Linked DNA regions of Homo sapiens. The protein of the gene in region 1 purifies or fractionates together with the protein of each later gene. This does not show direct contact. Each region holds a gene or a part of one and is shown on either strand. Other genes may lie near its edges.

Region 1 (2,665 bases):
CTGAACTTCCCATTCACATATGGATTGCTTTCTCTCTTGTTTCCTCAGCTCCATAAGTGTGAAAAACCACTGCCAGACCAGGCCTTCTTTGTCCTTCATAATATGCACTCCAACTGTGTTTCATTTGAATGCAAGACTGATCCTGGAGTGTTTATAGGTGTAAAGGATAATCATCTTGCTCTGATTAAAGTAGACTCTTCTGAGAATTTGTGTACTGAAAATATCTTGTTTAAGCTCTCTGAAACTTAGTTGATGGAAACCTGTGAGTCTTGGGTTGAGTACCCAAATGCTACCACTGGAGAAGGAATGAGAGATAAAGAAAGAGACAGGTGACATCTAAGGGAAATGAAGAGTGCTTAGCATGTGTGGAATGTTTTCCATATTATGTATAAAAATATTTTTTCTAATCCTCCAGTTATTCTTTTATTTCCCTCTGTATAACTGCATCTTCAATACAAGTATCAGTATATTAAATAGGGTATTGGTAAAGAAACGGTCAACATTCTAAAGAGATACAGTCTGACCTTTACTTTTCTCTAGTTTCAGTCCAGAAAGAACTTCATATTTAGAGCTAAGGCCACTGAGGAAAGAGCCATAGCTTAAGTCTCTATGTAGACAGGGATCCATTTTAAAGAGCTACTTAGAGAAATAATTTTCCACAGTTCCAAACGATAGGCTCAAACACTAGAGCTGCTAGTAAAAAGAAGACCAGATGCTTCACAGAATTATCATTTTTTCAACTGGAATAAAACACCAGGTTTGTTTGTAGATGTCTTAGGCAACACTCAGAGCAGATCTCCCTTACTGTCAGGGGATATGGAACTTCAAAGGCCCACATGGCAAGCCAGGTAACATAAATGTGTGAAAAAGTAAAGATAACTAAAAAATTTAGAAAAATAAATCCAGTATTTGTAAAGTGAATAACTTCATTTCTAATTGTTTAATTTTTAAAATTCTGATTTTTATATATTGAGTTTAAGCAAGGCATTCTTACACGAGGAAGTGAAGTAAATTTTAGTTCAGACATAAAATTTCACTTATTAGGAATATGTAACATGCTAAAACTTTTTTTTTTTTAAAGAGTACTGAGTCACAACATGTTTTAGAGCATCCAAGTACCATATAATCCAACTATCATGGTAAGGCCAGAAATCTTCTAACCTACCAGAGCCTAGATGAGACACCGAATTAACATTAAAATTTCAGTAACTGACTGTCCCTCATGTCCATGGCCTACCATCCCTTCTGACCCTGGCTTCCAGGGACCTATGTCTTTTAATACTCACTGTCACATTGGGCAAAGTTGCTTCTAATCCTTATTTCCCATGTGCACAAGTCTTTTTGTATTCCAGCTTCCTGATAACACTGCTTACTGTGGAATATTCATTTGACATCTGTCTCTTTTCATTTCTTTTAACTACCATGCCCTTGATATATCTTTTGCACCTGCTGAACTTCATTTCTGTATCACCTGACCTCTGGATGCCAAAACGTTTATTCTGCTTTGTCTGTTGTAGAATTTTAGATAAAGCTATTAATGGCAATATTTTTTTGCTAAACGTTTTTGTTTTTTACTGTCACTAGGGCAATAAAATTTATACTCAACCATATAATAACATTTTTTAACTACTAAAGGAGTAGTTTTTATTTTAAAGTCTTAGCAATTTCTATTACAACTTTTCTTAGACTTAACACTTATGATAAATGACTAACATAGTAACAGAATCTTTATGAAATATGACCTTTTCTGAAAATACATACTTTTACATTTCTACTTTATTGAGACCTATTAGATGTAAGTGCTAGTAGAATATAAGATAAAAGAGGCTGAGAATTACCATACAAGGGTATTACAACTGTAAAACAATTTATCTTTGTTTCATTGTTCTGTCAATAATTGTTACCAAAGAGATAAAAATAAAAGCAGAATGTATATCATCCCATCTGAAAAACACTAATTATTGACATGTGCATCTGTACAATAAACTTAAAATGATTATTAAATAATCAAATATATCTACTACATTGTTTATATTATTGAATAAAGTATATTTTCCAAATGTATGTGAGACTATAATGATTTTATCATATGATGACTCAATATTCTGAAATTTCTTTTTTTATTATACTTTAAGTTCTAGGGTCCATGTGCACGACATGCAGGTTTGTTACATATGTATACATGTGCCATGTTGGTATGCTGCACCCATTAACTCATCATTTACATTGGGTATATCTCCTAATGCTATCCCTCCCCCTTCCCCCACCCCACAACAGGCCCTGGTGTGCGGTGTTCCCCACTCTGTGTCCAAGTGTTTTCATTGTTCAATTCCCACCTATAAGTGAGAACATGCAGTGTTTGGTTTTTAGTCCGTGCGATAGTTTGTTCAGAATGATGGTTTCCAGCTCCATCCATGTCCCTACAAAGGACATGAACTCATCCTTTTTATGGCTGCATAGTATTCCATGGTGTATATGTGCCACATTTTCTTAATCCACTCTATCACTGATGGACATTTGGGTTGGTTCCAAGTCTTTGCTATTGTGAATAGTGCCGCAATAAACATACGTGTGCATATGTCTTTATAGCAGCATGATTTATAATCCTTTGGGTATATACCCAGTAATGGGATGGCTGGGTCAAATGGTATTTCTAGTTCTAGAT
Region 2 (4,473 bases), on another chromosome or scaffold:
CTGCAGAAGAATAACTTGGGAACATGAAAAATGCAGATTCCTGAGTTTCACCCTAGACTTCCAGAATTAGAAATTCCAGAGGTGGGGACTGGGAATATGCATTTTAAATGTCCTCAGCAAATTCTGAGACACAATCAAGCAAGACAATTATTTAATAACCTTAGTGTCTTTCCTCTCCAACTGTACATACCTGAAGACTCCATCCTACTTGTAGAAAAGGAGATAACAAAGGTTCAGTACCTGGCATTTACAAGGACCTCAATCAATACTTGTTCCCTGAATCCCTTCTTAAAGGAACTGTGGACTTCAGGAGCCAGAAGACACCAGAGGTCCCTTTCCAGTCCCTTGAAGTAAAATAAGTCTGAGGCTGTCTCTAATCACCTCCGCACACCGAGGGCCTAATCCATCTACCTGACCCTGTCTGGTCCAAGCTCCTCGAGGCTGGCACAGCTTTGGCCGTCAGGAGAGCCTTCTGGGCAGTGGCTCTAACAGAACCATGTCCAGGACTTCATCCGTGGGACAAAAAGAGTGAATCTTCAGTAAGTCTGTGTGCAGAGAAGCCTGAGATGATTTACCTCATTTCTAAGCTACTACTGTACTTTGTTGTTGTTGTTGTTGTTGTTTTGAGACGGAGTCTCGCTCTGTCACTCAGGCTGGAGTGCAGTGGCGTGATCTCGGCTCACTGCAAGCTCCGCCTCACGGGTTCACGCCATTCTCCTGCCTCAGCCTCCCGAGTAGCTGGGACTACAGGCCCCCACCACCACTCCCAGCTAATTTTTTTTTTTTTTTTTTTTTTTTTTTTTTTTTGTATTTTTAGTAGAGGCGGGGTTTCACCGTGTTAGCCAGGAAGGTCTCAATCTCCTGACCTCGTGATCCGCCTGCCTCGGTCTCCCAAAGTGCTGGGATTACAGGCGTGAGCCACCGAGCCGGCCAACTACTGCTGTACTTCTTACCCCCTGTATCAAAGAGTTAAAATCTAATTTTTTCCCAAGATCGGTCTCACTGTAAGTCTGCTATCTGTATTTTCCCATTCTTCGTCTGATAGCCACCGACATTAATGACCAGCTCATTACATGTTGAGGTGTGGGGAGATGGGGGTAGAACCCCGTCAACCCAGGATTCGAGTTTAGAAAGACTACAAGCCCCAAAATGCAATTTCACCTCCCAAAAACTACCATTCCCAACATGCAATGCAACCAGGACGAGCCAAGGAAAAAAAGTACAAGTGTGGCTGCAAAGTTTGCCCCTCTTGTTACCCTCAGGCAAATGATTGATTTAGAAAGGCCCCAGGGGCTATTTTTTGCAGGAACGGTCACTCCCTAAATCCAGGCAGGGAAAGGGAGGAGTCTGAGCCGAGTCACGCCCCTTCTCCTGTAAACTTGGGTCGCCTCTAGCTTAGCGAGCGCTGGAGTTTGAAGAGCGGGCAGTGGCTGCACACGCCAAACTTTCCCTATGGCTTCGGTGACCAGGGCCGTGTTTGGAGAGCTGCCCTCGGGAGGAGGGACAGTGGAGAAGTTCCAGCTGCAGTCAGACCTCTTGAGAGTGGACATCATCTCCTGGGGCTGCACGATCACAGCCCTAGAGGTCAAAGACAGGCAGGGGAGAGCCTCGGACGTGGTGCTTGGCTTCGCCGAGTTGGAAGGTGGGTTGAACTGTGCCCTGGGCTGCGAGCAGGCCCCAGGCCCACGCTACATACCTCCCGGATCTAGCGGGCCACTTGCAATGCGAGGGACCAAGGGGGAAAGTCGCCTAGCTTGGGACCGTCTGACTTGCAAGCGCATGCATCATAGAGGGCCGTGTGGCCATCCAGCATTTGGGAAAAACTGTAATAAATAAACTATGGCAGTTGGCCTCTGGTTATCCGTTCAGGCTTTGCCCCAGTTAACGTAAAAGGTCAGCTGATGGTATGATACACTTCAGCGATCCTGGAGCGATCTTTGAACTGCCTAATCTTTGAACTGCCTGATACCTGGAGAAGGCTGGAGAGGAAAGAGCAGGCAAGAGGGGGTGTGGCTCCCACTTCTTCCCTTCTGAAGAAGGAAATTCAAATACTTGCCTCTTCTACTTCCTTCTTCCTTGATCAGATTCTCTTTGAGGCCTGGTTGTCTCAGAAATGCTCCACTAAGCTCAGTGGTTGCCTAGTACACCAGCTACCCAATAACCATTTAGGAACAAAATAGAGAAGACCAACTCAGTGTCTTCTCAGAGATCAGGTCTCCTACCAACTAGGATGGACTTTTATCCCAGAATCCATGGGCAATTAGGATCAGGCATTAATTAATACATTTGACAACTCTATTAATCCGATGACCTCATTAAACAGGACAGACAAGGTCCCCACTCTTGCGGTTTGGCTGGGGAGATAGACTTTAACTCAGTAATTGCATAAATAAAGAATGACAATTGCAGCTTGATTGCAGCAAAGGAAAATGTACATCATGCTCTCTTAGCACCATGGTGTAACTAGACAGAAAATGAGGTGTGAAATAAAGCTGGCAAAGGGAAACTGAGAGTTAATACTCTCTGCTCAGTGGTTGGGGCGTAGACAAATTCTGCTGGAGAGGAGGTTTGAGGTTTTCCTTTTGGTGTGTCATTCTGTCTGTTTGGTTCTTCCGATACGTAAGATATGTAACTTGGCTCATGGTTACATGTTGGCCAGACCAGCCTGGCCAGCATGGTGAAACCCTGTCTCTACTAAAAATACAAAAAAATTAGCTGAGCATGGTGGCACGTGCCTGTAATCCCAGCTAGTCAGGAGGCTGAGGCAGGAGAATAGCTTGAACCCAGGAGGCGGAGGTTGCAGTGAGCCAAGATTGCGCCACTGCACTCCAGCGTGGGTGGCAGAGCGAAACTCTATCTTAAAAAACAGAGAGCAAATTTCAATTCCTCAGGGAAAAAAACAAAACTCAGCTTTCTGTTGAACACCACCATGCCCGGCTAATTTTTTTGTGTTTTTGGTAGAGATGGGGTTTCACCATGTTGGCCAGGCTGCTGGCGGGCACCTGTAATCCCAGCTACTTGGGAGGCTGAGGCAGGAGAATCACTTGAATCTGGGAGGCGGAAGTTGCAGTGAGCCGAGATTGCGCCACTGCACTCCAGCCTGGGCGACAGAGTGAGACCCCATCTCAAAAAAATAAAAATATACTCTAACCTTTCCCTCTGCCTTTCTGTGTAACAGCTGACCATAAAGAAATTAAGACCCTCATTCCAGAGGGGTCCTGCCCCATACCCGGAGGAAGAAATGCTGCATGGGGAGGCCAAGAAAAATCTGAACACAGGCCTTGCCGAGTTTCCCCACTCACTCTATTAGCAACAGATCTTACCCTTTTGGTCCAATCATATTTCTACATGGCTGTCCATGTTCCATTGGACCTAAGCATAGAAATGGATTGTTTTCCTTGTATCTGTCGGTCTTCATTCTGAAAGCTCCCGTGTCACATAAAACTATAATCAAATAAATTTGTTTGGCTTTTTTATGTATTTTTTATTTTTTAGAGGTGGAGTCTCGCTCTGTCACCCAGGCTAGAGTGGAGTAGTGCAATTATAGCTGACTTGCAGCCTCGAACTACTGGCCTCAAGCAATCCTCCCACTTCAGCCTCCCAAAGTGCTGGGATTACAGACATGAGCCACTGTGCCCAGCTGTTTTGCTTTTCTCTTGTTACCCTGTGTTTGTTGTAGAGGTGTGGGCTGTGACTCTTACAGGGGAGATATACAACACTCTGTTACTATTTTGATGGTGCTCTGATACTACATTTCTAGTGCATTAAAACCTATGTTAACAATAAACTGGTAACAGTGGTTGTTAAGAAAGGATCCTGGGTGCCCAGGGTGCAGAGGATGGGAAGGAGACTTAATTTTCACTGCATATTCTTTTAAACCATCAGAGTATGTAAGTATATATAAACAAACAGAGGTAAATAATTTAAAGTAATAAGACTTGACAGAGGCCGGCATGGTGGCTCACACCTGTAATCCTAGGAGTCCAAAGTGGGAGGATCGCTTGAGGCCAGGAGTTTGAGACCAGCCTGAGCAACATAGTGAGACCCTGTCTCTAAAATAAATAAAAATAAATAAATAAATAAATAAATTTAAATTTAAAAAAAATTTTTTTAAATACTTGACAGAATAAGGGGTTATCTTGACATTACCATATCCCAAAAATGGTTTTGAGCCATGCGGAAGATCTGAGCGTGGATAATTCCATGAGACATGGTCCTTTTGTAACTGCAGAGTTAGATATGAACAATCTTCAATTTCCCAGACAGGTTATATAAACTGTTTGGATGACAGCCATAACCAGAGGTCAGAATGGTTCAGTTTCTCCCTGGGAAAATGGGATTTTTTTCTTTCATAGAATTCTAAAGAAGAAAATTATATAAATTTTTAGTTACAGTAAGAGAGGAGACCACCCCTCATATTGCCTTATGCCCAATTTCTGCCTCCAAAGAAAGAAGTAAAAACTAAAAGGCAGA

What was found.
Region 2: the proteins of IL33 (region 1) and GALM purify together in Homo sapiens (affinity purification with mass spectrometry; one large-scale study listed by BioGRID and IntAct). This does not show direct contact.

The regions. Positions count from the first base shown.
Region 1 is NC_000009.12:6,255,920-6,258,584, forward strand, and holds the end of IL33 (interleukin-33 isoform a precursor), read left to right. Parts: intron 1-48; coding exon 49-249; 3' UTR 250-2,064; downstream 2,065-2,665. UniProt on the Homo sapiens protein: Cytokine that binds to and signals through the IL1RL1/ST2 receptor which in turn activates NF-kappa-B and MAPK signaling pathways in target cells. Involved in the maturation of Th2 cells inducing the secretion of T-helper type 2-associated cytokines.
Region 2 is NC_000002.12:38,664,710-38,669,182, forward strand, and holds the start of GALM (galactose mutarotase), read left to right. Parts: upstream 1-1,404; 5' UTR 1,405-1,452; coding exon 1,453-1,642; intron 1,643-4,473. UniProt on the Homo sapiens protein: Mutarotase that catalyzes the interconversion of beta-D-galactose and alpha-D-galactose during galactose metabolism.